Linked DNA regions of Homo sapiens: all the other regions are reported to be linked to region 1. The links are microRNA targets in miRTarBase. Many come from high-throughput screens and were not tested one by one. Region 1 holds a microRNA gene; each other region holds the end of a gene's coding sequence.
The links. Region 1 holds the annotated microRNA hsa-miR-6131 (GGCUGGUCAGAUGGGAGUG, at 2,001-2,019, opposite strand). A microRNA usually pairs through its seed, bases 2 to 8, with sites in the 3' UTR of a target mRNA and lowers its output. Matches are read on the target gene's strand: a 7mer-m8 pairs with bases 2 to 8, a 7mer-A1 pairs with bases 2 to 7 and ends in A, and an 8mer does both.

Region 1 (3,184 bases):
AGAAGTTCCTATTTTTAGCACCTCCCATGCTCAGACATGGGTTATTTTTTGTCTTCAAACTCTCCTAAAGAGTTGACATGTTGGCTGGGCACAGTGGCTCATGCCTGTAATCCCAGCACTTTGGGAGGTCGAGGCAGGCGGATCACCTGAGGTTGGGGGTTCAAGACCATCCTGACCAACATGGAGAAACCCCGTCTCTGCTAAAAAGACAAAATTAGCCAGGCGTGGTGGCGCATGCCTGTAATCTCAGCTACTTGGGAGGCTGAGGCAGGAAAATTGCTTGAATTCAGGAGGCAGAGGTTGCGTGAGCCGAGATCGTGCCATTGCACTCCAGCCTGGACAACAAGAGAAACTCCGTCTCAGAAAAAAAAAAGAGTTGACATGTCCCAGCCTATTACCGCAAAGCCGTGCCGTGCATTTAGTGAGAGGAGACAGTAGGGACAGGAGCTCAGGCAAGAGGCCTCCTCTCCCACAGTGCCCAGGAAATAGTCACAAGGTGAGACGCCCGAAGCAGCTGCCAGCCGAGTCCCAGCCTGGCGTCCTGTGCTCTCCCTCGGGTTTCCAGGGAAGCAGGTGTGGCAGCCCCACCTCTGCCCACCCTGTTCTCACTCCACTTCCAGAGAGGAGGGTGCGGGTGTGAACTCTGCAGCCCGTGTTTGCAACTCTGCCAAGTAGGCGTGACCAAATGGCAATTTAAAAGCCACTCACCTAAAGATGTGGGGTGTCTGAGCCAAGCCTGAGCGCCCATTCTAATCCTGTAGAAATATTTGAAAGAGAATAGTCATCACATCTGGGGGGCTGGGCTCAAGATTTTTCTAGCACTGACTCACTCACAGAACTTGGGCAAGTCTTTACATTCTCCAGGTCTCAATTTCTGCATGGAAGCATGGAGACAGTCATTGTAGACCAGTGTCACTTTCCCTTATATGCTGGGGACTTGAAAGAACTATTACACACTCCAAAGTGACTAATTTATAGCTTAATCACTTGTAACATCTTTCTAACCTACTCACACACGTTACCATAATTATAGCAGCCACCTCAAAAACAAGGACACCAGGATAATCATGAAAACACTAAAAACAGAGTGCTAAAATATAGCTGATTTCGAAGGCATTAATCTTCCTAATCCTTCTGTGTGGACAAGAGGCTGCAAATATTGGTGAAAACATCATCCTCATCATCATCACATATCTTTACAACACCCTATATATTCTTTCCAAAATTGGCCATGCCATTTTGCCATCTTTTCCCGCTCCTGAGATAAGTAGAAAACTATTCTTATTTTCTCCAATTAGCACTTCTTTTAGGCATTGGAAACCTAGCAAGATTTGGGGAGGAAGATTTACTGGCTTGAAGAGTGTTTCCCACCCCAAAATTCATGTCCACCCAGAACCTCAGAATGTGGCCCTATTTGGAAACAGGGCTGTTGCAGATGTCATTAAGATGAGATCATACCACAGTAGGGTGAGCTCTAAATCCAACGACTGCTGCCCTTTACGAGAGGAGAGGATGCACAGTCGTACGCACAGAGAAGACCATGTGAAGAGGGAGGCAGAGATTGGAGTAATGCACCCACACGCCAAGGAATGCCAGGGATTGTCAGCATCACCAGAAGCTGGCAGAAGCAGGAAGGACCCCCACCCCCAGCCAGAGCCTTAGAAGGAAGTGTGGCCCTGCCAATCAAGTCCGGGAAGCTAGAAGTCCAAAAATTTCTAGCCTCCAGGACTGTGAGAGAATAAATCTCTGTTGCGGAAGCCCCTGAGTTTGTGATACTTTGTCGGGGCAGCCCCAGGAAGCTAATACAGAAAGGGTACTGGGAAACTGGGAGCCAGAGGCTCAGAAGGGAGCTCACAGAGGCTGCAGGAACTCAGCTACCACTCAAGTATCTGGAGAGGGCTCAAGGTTTCTCTGGTTGCACCTTGATCCATCCCAGTAGACACACAGTGCAGGGCCCACCACGTGCAGTCATGAAGCCGGGAGGACCCCGGGTCTCTGTCCACTCCCATCTGACCAGCCAGAACCCACCATCTCTGGCTCTACCCATGGAAGGAGGGCACCACCTGACCAAAGCAGAGGGAATGCGGGATGAGAAGGGGCAGCAACGAGTGTGCCTGATGTGCTCGCTGCTGATTAAAGCTTCCTTCAACAGAGAGTTTTATCCTGGAGGATTTTGAATAGTTTTTTTTCTTTTTTTAGACAGAATCTCACTCTGTCACCAAGGCTGGAGTGCAGTAGTGTGATCTTTGCTCACTGCAACCTCTGCCTCCCGGGCTCAAGTGATTCTCCTGTCTCAGCCTCCCAAGTAGCTGGGATTATAGGTGAACGCCACCATACCCAGCTAATTTTTGTATTTTTAGTAGAGATGAGATTTCACCATGTTGCCCAGGCTGGTCTTGAACTCCTGACCTCAAATGATCCGATTGCCTTGGCCTCCCAAAGTGCTGGAATTACAGACATGAGCCACTGTGCCTGGCCTTATCCCAGAGGATTTTCCAGAATATTAAGCATACATGTCCTCTTCCTGCCATCCTCACGGAGCATCTGCCCTCCTGTCATCTTGCTCCTAAGTTTCCCGCCCTTTTCCTCAGGTCCTGAGAGAGTCTTGATGGCTGACCCAAATCCTTCCTTCCTGTCCATCAACAGATGTCAGCTCAGTTCCTGGCTGGCTGCGTGTCCTTGTTCCACCTGTAGTAGGACCGCTTTGCTTTCTTCATCTATACAGTGTGAATAACGGTAGCAGGAGCTACCTATAGATGAAGGTAGCAAGTCTGTGGACTAGCAAGTCCGTGGACCAGGACATGGAGCGCCCCACACAGTGCCCAGGTCAGTGGCCCTCGGTAAATGTGGGTTAACCTCTTTAACATGTTGAAAAAGGTCAAGGTTAACTGCATAGACCCGGGGTCAGCAAACAATGGCCCACAAGGTAAAAATGGTTTTTACACTTGTAAGTAGTTGAAAAAGTTCAAAAAGAAAAATATTTTGTGATGTGGAATTCTATGAACTTAATTTTAGTGTTCATTAATAAAGTTTTATTGGAACACGGCCACACTCACTCATTTTCATATTGTCTATGGCTGCTCTCATGCTACACAGCAGAGCTGAGCAGTTGCAGCAGAGACTGCATGTCTGCAAAGCCCAAAAGATTTACTATATGATGCACTACAGAAAAGGGTTGCAGGTC
Region 2 (3,159 bases), not on the chromosome of region 1:
CCAATAAGAACAAAGGTAAGAGTCACTTGTTAAATAAAACAACACAAAATGCAGGAATATAACATGTGGCAAACTATCAGGAGTGTGAAATAACCGATGCATTCTTTCTTGTTTAGGCATCATCTGGGGAGAGGATACACTGATGGAGTATTTGGAGAATCCCAAGAAGTACATCCCTGGAACAAAAATGATCTTTGTCGGCATTAAGAAGAAGGAAGAAAGGGCAGACTTAATAGCTTATCTCAAAAAAGCTACTAATGAGTAATAATTGGCCACTGCCTTATTTATTACAAAACAGAAATGTCTCATGACTTTTTTATGTGTACCATCCTTTAATAGATCTCATACACCAGAATTCAGATCATGAATGACTGACAGAATATTTTGTTGGGCAGTCCTGATTTAAAACTAAGACTGGCTTGTGGTTAAATGAATATGTTCAGTTTTTGAATTTTAATAGTAACTCCAATTCAGTAAATGGTATCACTGTTTACCCCTTTTAAAGATATGATTAGACTTCGTTAGTAATGTTCAACTTTTCACAAAGATGGTGAGTGCCATCTTAAAACTTACTGGAGATTGGTTTTATATTTAGATTTATATAACTGGTTATGTGAATATATTTAAATACTGGGGAAATTGCTTCACTGTCTTAGAACCAAGCAAGATTCACCTGTGTTTTGTGTTCATGTTCATTTGCCTCTTAAAGGCAAGGGTTGAAGATAAATAAGGTAGCAATGTCTATAGTTTTGGCCTTAACTATGCCAATCTAATTATAATTCCCTGTATTTAAAATGGTTTCTTTTACTTATTGAAAGGCATTTTAGTGTGGTTTATGTGTAATATTAAAGATTATTCAACACCTCTCACATCTTACAGATCTATAAGGTCACATGCTTTTAAAATAGTAGCAAGTTAAACTTCACTCTTGAATTCTTTACAATCTAAGTCAAACTAAGTTATAATTTAGGATTGTCTTTAAACAGCCATTCAGAAACAAAACTGTAGAACTGTGTATTTGATTGGGAATGGTGCTTTTGCCAACTTAAAAGGATTAAAGTAACGGAGATATACACAAATTTTAAAATTATGTGTGATCACAAGACTAAAGATAATTAAAAAGAAAACCACAGATCATGACTTTTTGACTGTGCTTGATTTCATGACTGATGCACAAATTTTAATGATTAAAAAGTGCAGGAGCCCTAAATGTCAGTGCAGCAGCCCTAAATGTCAGTGCAGCAGTGTTAACCAGTCATGGTGCTAGATTGTTTACTTGGTTTTCTAGGACTGCCTCAACTAGAATAACACTTCACTAATTGACTCTTAGTTTCTTTGCTCAGATTGAGAACTGCAGCATTTATGCCAGACATGGACAGAGGAATGCCTGTGGTCATAGTTTTGTGATGTGTAACAGTGTATAATTACATACTGAATTATTTCATGCATAGTCTGTGCCATACACATTTAGAGTAGTCCTTGGAGATTTTATGGAGATGGTGAGCACAAGGTAAGTCATAAAGAATAATGAGAAAATAAATCTATGCTGGTGCAGCTGAGAACTGTATCTTTGTGGGACAGTGAGAAGACTGAGAAGATGTGAATCCATGGTCTCAAAGGTGATAGGGACGATTAGATAGGTGTTTTAAGGCCTGAAAGCAATTTATAACATATGAGTCTTATTTTTATTTATAGAAATGTGGAAAGCTTGCTGTAATTCATATTTGAAGTCCTAGTCTGAGTTCTGGTGGGGAATTTAAAAATGCATCCTGGAAATCCTTTAAAGATTTCAGACTTTGAAAGGCCTTGTAGCAGAGGACTTGGTGACTGTATAAAGTTAGTGGTATTCAGGGACAGTGTAGCAAGTAGCTTACAAGGGGACAATTCTGGACTAATGAGAAAGACCTGAAGTGAAGGCTAGAGAGTTGATTTTTTTTTTTTTTGGCATCCTGGAAATGATACAGGAAACATATTAAGATAGATACAGAAATGTGTTCAACCTTCCATCTTGGCTAGTTGTGGCGTTTAGTTTGTTTTTTGAGACATGGTCACGCTGTGTCGCCAAGGCTGGAGTGCAGTGGTGCGATCTCGGCTGGCTGCAACCTCTATTTCCCAGGCTCAAGCGATTCTCTCACTTCAGCTTCCCAAGTAGCTGGGACTACAGGTGTTCGCCACCATGCCCAGCTAATTTTTTTGTAGAGATGGAGTTTTGCCATGTGGTCCCAGGCTGGTCTCAAACTCCTGAGCTCAAGCAATCCGTCCACTTGCCTTGGCTCCCCAAAGTGCTGGGATTACAGGCGTGAGCCACCAGGCCCTGCCTGGTTTTCAAATTCAGAAATCTTATTATTTAACCCAGAAGTAATCAGCCCAGTAGTAACTTAGGTTTAATTTTTTTTCAGGTTTAAAATTTTTCTCATTTATTTTTTCTGAGACGGAGTTTCGCCCTTTTCGCCCAGGCTGAGTACAGTGGTGCAATCTCACTGCAACCTCCGCCTTCCAGTTGCAAGTGATTCTCCTGCCTCAGCCTCCTGAGTAGCTGGGATTACAGGCACCCGCCACCACGCCTGGCTAATTTTTGTATTTTTAGTGGAGATGGTGTTTCACCATGTTGGCCAGACTGGTCTTGGACTCCTGACCTCGTGATCCACCCACCTTGGCCTCCCAAAGTTCTAGGATTACAGGTGTGAGCCACCACGTCCGGCCAATTTTTCTCATTTCTATGCCTCCTATATTAAGGTCTGTGTTGGCACAGATGAGTAACTGCCATGTTCTAGGTCAGTTATACCCAAGCACTTCTGGTGGTTTAAAATGTGATTCTGTAACTTTTTTATTTTTATTTTTTTGAGATAATTTCACTCTTGTTGCCCAGGCTGGAGTGCAATGGCGTGATCGCTGCTCACCGCAACCTCCGCCTTCCAGGTTCAAGCGATTCTCCTGACTCAGCCTCTCAAGTAGCTGGGATTACAAGCATGCGCCACCATGCCCAGCTTATTTTGTGTTTTTAGTAGAGACAGGGTTTCTCCATGCTGGACAGGCTGGTCTTGAACTCCCGACGTCAGGTGATCTACCTGCCTCGGCCTCCCAAAGTGCTGGGATTACAGGCGTGAGCCACCACGCCTGGCCAATTATGTAATTTTTTAAAAAGGACATTTCTATCAG
Region 3 (3,184 bases), not on the chromosome of region 1:
CTTCAGCTTTTAATAGATTATATATATTAATATTCCAGGTTTTAAGGAATTAAGTTACATTAACAATAAAAAATATTCCATATATTCCCTTATAAAAGGTTCTATTAATTCTAAGAGTTCTCAAATGGGCTTCAATAAGAATGATGGGTTTAAAGATGAAGGACATGACACGCTCAAAATTAAGAAAAATGCTGTATTTGAACTTGCAAGGATAATTGAACACTTTGGTTATAACATACTTAAAAGATTTCTGTTAAAATTTAATTTCCTTGTTTTCAAATTAAAAGGTAGAACAGTCTCCTGAAGGTAATGTAGGTGGGTCCCTTGCTTTTCACTTACTATAAACTGTGCTAACCAATACATGGAGGTGAAGGGGGATATAAAACACAAATTATTTCATCACTGAAATAATTAGCTGCTAACATGACTTCTAAAGAACAGGTATAATATAAAACTAAGAACTTATTTCAAAATATGAATAAAGGCACTAATTACAAATGTACATTTTTTAGACAGTATCTTACAGTTCACTGATTTACAATGAATGTCAGAACCAATGCTCTAGTATTAGATACTTGCTTGGGTTAAAACATTCTCTTGGAGTAAAGAATAATCAGTTTTCACGTTACTGTGACAGGAAAGATTGAGTGAAAACCTAAAAAATACTCTTAAAAAGTCTTACATGAATTTCCTAATCATGAACTTTTCCCAATCAGCACCGTCTACACTGATGCCAATTTCATCTTCAACACATGGCTAACATAAATCATTTCTAATCCAAAACTAACCAAATATTTTTTAAAGGATTTACAAAATAAATTGTATTTTAAAAATTAAATAGCAAATTTGAGTCTATACTAGTAGTTGGCAAAATACAATCAACTATTAAAAACACTTTTAATATAATGCTGATGTGGTAATATAAAAAATAACCATATAATTTGACAGAAGAAAATTGAGCCAGCCAATCTTACTAGATACAAGAAGGCAGATAGTCATTTCATAAGAACAAATACAGGAGTACTAAGTATGCTTTTTCTCAGGACAGACTTAGGGAAACTACCCTCAGTACTTACGGTAAACAACACAACCAAGCAGAAATTCAGGCAAACTGTGCTTAGGTAAATGGCATTTTCTTAATTCCCCCACATCCCACACACACCACAAACCATCCATATCGATTTATGTCTGCTTTTCGCTCATGTTCTTGATTATGGGTTATATTAAAAACTAAGTTAAACTACACTTATCCTCTACTTGATACAGAATCACTAAGAAAACGGCTTAAAACAAAGTTAAACAACTACTTTCCAAAGCCCAGAAAGCTTTCCTTTGGCCACTGTTCAGTTCAAGGGTGTGCTCCAACTAAAGATAAATCAGAAAAATGTTACCACATTCGACTAAATTAACTTGACTAAATATAATAAACCAAGCACACCTGAAAAAAGAGCAAAATTTAAATCAACTTACAAAAATATTAAAATTAAAATACCAATTTTGAACACATATTTTGATATTATGAACTTTGTATCTTTTTTATCAAAATTAAAAAGTACTGCAAAAATGAAGTATTATTCTCTAAGTATTCATTTTATCCCTTTCATTTCAGCAAAATCACACATTTGAATAAACAGGATCGAAATACGACACTTGTCTTTCCTCTTAATTTAAGGAATATATTGTTTAGATTATTGTTCATATTAGACAACTGCCTCAAAAATGTTTTAATGCCATCCAATAAATAAACTTTTGATAGATTATGACTTTTTTTAATTTTAAGTTGTTAAGAATATTAACTTTGAGTCTCCTATTAATATTCTAAAAGCTAGGATTCAATTCAGCAGTTTCCTATAACATTTTAGAACCCAAGGCATAACTACAAAGATGGCAATTGTTTCAAGTCTATTACATAATACCGTCAAATAAATTCAAGGAAAGCCATGTAGTTTTTTAAGTAACATACTGCTGGTAGTAAAAATGCTATGACAGACACGACTTCAAATTTTAAGAAACAAAATGGACTGTTCATACTTCGGCTTCAGCTACTGCCCAAAGCAGCTGTGATATATCTTGCAAAGAAAAGAGCTAAAATTTCTGTTGATAATAAAGTTGTTTGTAAACTGATGCTAAAATATATTCCAATTGTCTTATTTTTAGTGCTGGTATGATTTACTAACTTCTGATAGTTTTATATGCATTGAATAATGTGATATTCTTAAAATAACAGATTTATTCAAGAATATTTAACATCAAAGTTGGGCTTTCAAATAAATATTTTACCTTGGTTAGTTTTTGAACAAATGTTGCAGGCAGAAGAGTGGACTTGATTCCTTTAGATAAATAAACAGCCTACTTAATTTCCATGCAAATAACAACTTAAACATTATTCCATGACTCAACAGTAATGTGGGGGAAAGTTAAAAGGCAAGTACTCATGATGTGGAATCTTCCTTACATATATCCTCTAGGCAGATTTCTTTCTTTACAGTAAGTTCTGTCCGAAAGATGAATGGTTTATAGAGGGAACAAATATATTTAGTGCTGGAGAAGTCTGCAGGCAGTACCTGATGGTTTCCAAGACTACTCTATCAAACCAGTAATTCTCTGGTTGGGAGGGAGTGCTGGTCAAGAATTGAAAGCAATTGGTCATTAAGGTTATAAGAATATTTCAGAAGACATCACGCATATGACAAACATTTCTTACAAGGCAGTCACTGATTAATTAGAATAAACAGAAGAATTGTTGCTGAAAACATAGTTATACATTACATTCATCCAACTGAAGATTAGTGTGTTAAAAAAAAAAAGTTAAGAAAAAATCTTTTATGTTCCAGTTCAGCTGCACTTGATTCAAGTGTTGCTCTCAGAGGTTTGTGTTGTTATAAATTAAACATGCTGCTGCCTTAGCAGCCAAAGGTACTAGGAAAAAATGTTCATGTCACAGAATAAATAGAGCAGTCTCTTTCAAGCAAAAAAGTTATCTCACACCAATCCGGGAGGTCATCCACTCTAGACCTTGGCATAACCTAAACAAAAGATAGAAGTATTTTTAATTAAAAACCTTATACTTAAAAACTGAAAGCGTACTTATTATTTTTAGGTCTTAACCAAAGGCTGGTAGCACAATCATTATTTATATACATCAGTGTCAACATTCAAGTCACACTATAATAAGTGAAATTTT
Region 4 (3,184 bases), not on the chromosome of region 1:
TGATGTCCATTTTTCACTGTTGGTTTTTGAAATCGTCTAACTTTCTTGGCGTTTTACAATTTGATTAGTACTTTTCTTAATATGGAATAGCCATTAACTCTTTATTTATTTATTTTTTTTGAGACGGAGTCTCGTTCTGTTGCCCAGGCTGGAGTGCAGTGGCGTGATCTCGGCTCACTGCAACCTCTGCCTCTCGGGTTCAAACGATTCTCCTGCCTCAGCCTCCCGAGTAGCTGGGACTACAGGCATGTGCCACCATGCCTGGCTAATTTTTTGTATTTTTAGTAGAGACGGGATTTCACCGTGTTAGCCAGGATGGTCTCAATCTCCTGACCTCGTGATTCGCCCACCTCGGCCTCCCAGAGTGCTGGGATTACAGGTGTGAGCCACCTTGCATGGCCCCTGTTAACTCTTTGTTTTTCTCCTTCATTCTTTGTGTGTGTTTTATAAACATTTAAATGTTTATAGGGTCAAATTAGTTCATTTCTTTTCTTTGTGACTTTTACCCTTTTTCTGTTTTGTAAGAATATCTTAAGTCTTACTGATGCACGTTTTTCCTTTTTTTCATTTTAGCATTTATATAACTCTGCAGCCTTCAAAGCTCGAACCAAAGCTAGAAGCAAATGTCGAGATAAGAGAGCAGATGTTGGAGAATTCTTCTAGATTTTCAGAACTTGAAGACTATTTTCTAATTTCTATTTTTTTTTCTATTTCAATGTATTTAAACTCTAGACACAGTTTTTATCCTGGATTAACTTAGATAACTTTTGTAGCAGTGGTTATATTGCTTATAATTTAATGTACAATACTATTGAAACTGGTGAGTTCTGATTATTAAATATTCTCTGTAAATCAGTAAACATGTATAAAGTATTTGTAATGTTTGGTCATAATTTATTTATGAAGACAGCAAAAGACTGATTTCATGATGGGGAAAACAATTAGCCAAAGTTTAATTTCTTACACTGTGGTTGTCAAGAATACTGATTTACTATAATGATATATACATGCAAGATATTTAACTTAATATCTTAGACAAGAGTTCTGGGTACAATTTTGGGATCTAGTTCCCCTGGAAAAGCTGCTGTATTTTTAATTTTTAATGGAATGTAGCTTTTAAAATCCTGTCACTGGCATCAACAAAAGGAATTATACCATGAGACCTTATAGCTGTACTTAAAAGCCATTCAGTTCAGCTATTGGGAGTTCATGATGAATTAGCATATGCCAGAAAGGTTGCTAACCTTAACATCTGAGAGCAGTAACACTGATTTTATCTGCTGTATGAGACTTTGTGCATTTTACTTTGAAATAAAGATTTTTTTCCACACTGAAAGTGCTTCTCTTCTAATAGAAGAAATATTATTTATGGCTTTGAGGTACAGAGTCCAAAATGACTAGGCCAGGTGGGCAGGGAGACAAAGCTTTATGTGTATATTTACAAACATTAAAGTAGATGAAAAGAATGTAGCAATACATAATTGGGATTAAGGTTTCTGACTTTCAAGAATATTTCTGCTTGGCAACATGCAGTGTGGCTCATGCCTATAATCAGCACTCTGGGGAGGCTGAGGCGGGAGGATGGCATGAGCCCAGTTTGAGACCAGCCTGGGCAACATAGCGAGACCCTGTCTCTACCAGAAATTTAAAAAATGAGTGTGGTGGTGTGTGCTTCTACTCTTTATCTACTTGGGTGCTGAGGCAAGAGGGTAACTTGAGCCCAGGAGGTCAAAGCTGCAGTGAGCCGTGATTGTGCCACTCCAGCCTGGGTGACGAGTGAGACCTTGTCTCAAAAGCAAAACAAAAAAGAATATTGCTGCTTGTTTGCCCATGAGGTATATTTCTTTCATTTTATGAAAAGCATTTTGACAACACGTTAACATTTAATAAACTTTAGATTAAAATATATAGTGCAAGCAACATGCCATTTCAAATCCGTAGACTTGTTTCTTTGATACTCTTGCTGTAGGTCGCCGTGAGGGGTAGGGAAGCATATATACTGTAGGGAGAAGTATCAAAATCATTTAAGGTCTTTTTTCCAAACTAGTGTTCCCCTCCCACATCCCAACAACTCTTGGAAGTCTGGTGCTCCCTCTAGGTGAAAATCATTTGCTGGCTTATGGAGTCACTGTTGCTGAGTCCCATCCCCCAGTTACAGTGCAGTGGAAAACAGGTTTAGAATCTAGAACTTGTTTGTATGTTGTCACTTGGTTATGTTCCAAGTAGGTTAGAACCATGGAAAAGAGATTGCAAATGGTAGTTTCTTCTAGATATTCAAATGCATATATGTATGTACATGTAATTATAAATAAATAATGAATTTTTATTAAAGTGTTGTATGAACATAGGTTTTTGTTTGTTTTTGAGACAGTCTCCCTCTGTTGCGCAGGCTGGGGTGCAGTAGCGCAATCTTGGCTCACTGTAACCTCTGCCTTCAGGGTCCAAACGATTCTCCTGCCTCAGCCTCCTGAGTTGCTGGGATTACAGGTGTGTTCCACCACACCTGGCTAATTTATATTTTTAGTTGTGATGGGGTTTCACCATGTTGGCCAGGCTGGTCTTGAACTCCTGACCTCAAGTGATCTGCCCGCCTTGGTCTCCCAAAGTGTTGGGATTACAGGCATGAGCCACCGTGCCCAGCCTGAACATAGTTTAATGGTACTTCAAGGCTAATAAGGAAAGCCCCTTGCTCCATCCTTTCCTATTCCTCAGTCCCATCCCAAGAGACATTCAGCCTTCAGTTTTTTCTAGCTCGGTTCTTTCAGCCTTCAGTTTTTGGTTTTAGGTTTCTAAATAATATGATTATACAGCCATTTATTTTTTAGGTGTTTGTCAACTTACTATTAAGACAGGTGAAAATTTCTTTTATTGTTTCACATCCTTCTAATATTATTTTGGTTAGATCATGTACCTGTTTGCATAGCTGTGATCATACTTGTATGTTCACTCGTGAATTAATTTAATGTGCTTACATTTTCATTCTCATACAACGTTTTGTCTTGGAGTTAATGCTCTTTTTTTTGGCTTTTTATGCACATCATTGATTCTTCCCAAACAGTCCCAAATAAATTTGTCACAACTTTTCTTGATTCTGTACTTGTTTCAATCTAGACTAGTTTCTCTCATCCAATTGTATAGCAGTTTTCCTGAGACAGCACTATCGTGAGGATTTGTTTTTCTTTCT

Region 2: the mRNA of CYCS is a reported target of hsa-miR-6131. The part of its 3' UTR that is shown has no 7-base or 8-base seed match.
Region 3: miRTarBase lists ARL5B as a target of hsa-miR-6131. Seed matches in the 3' UTR shown: 8mer at 2,620-2,627, 7mer-A1 at 2,158-2,164 and 7mer-A1 at 1,964-1,970.
Region 4: the mRNA of IFRD1 is a reported target of hsa-miR-6131. Seed matches in the 3' UTR shown: 7mer-m8 at 1,602-1,608.

The regions. Positions count from the first base shown.
Region 1 is chr5:10,476,942-10,480,125 of GRCh38, reverse strand. It overlaps MIR6131 (microRNA 6131), which reads right to left and starts at 2,089; the gene lies at 1,981-2,089. It also overlaps a transcript of ROPN1L not described here.
Region 2 is chr7:25,120,807-25,123,965 of GRCh38, reverse strand. CYCS (cytochrome c, somatic) reads left to right here. Exons shown (of 3, transcript NM_018947.6): 2 at 1-15; 3 at 117-3,159. The coding sequence ends at 265. Among named protein-coding and RNA genes, the nearest start is that of CYCS, 2.9 kb to the left of the region's middle.
Region 3 is chr10:18,675,010-18,678,193 of GRCh38, reverse strand. It overlaps ARL5B (ARF like GTPase 5B), which reads right to left. Exons shown (of 6, transcript NM_178815.5): 6 at 1-3,026. The coding sequence ends at 2,978. Among named protein-coding and RNA genes, the nearest start is that of ARL5B, 17 kb to the right of the region's middle.
Region 4 is chr7:112,474,857-112,478,040 of GRCh38, forward strand. It overlaps IFRD1 (interferon related developmental regulator 1), which reads left to right. Exons shown (of 12, transcript NM_001550.4): 12 at 574-2,347. The coding sequence ends at 663. Among named protein-coding and RNA genes, the nearest start is that of LSMEM1, 4.5 kb to the right of the region's middle.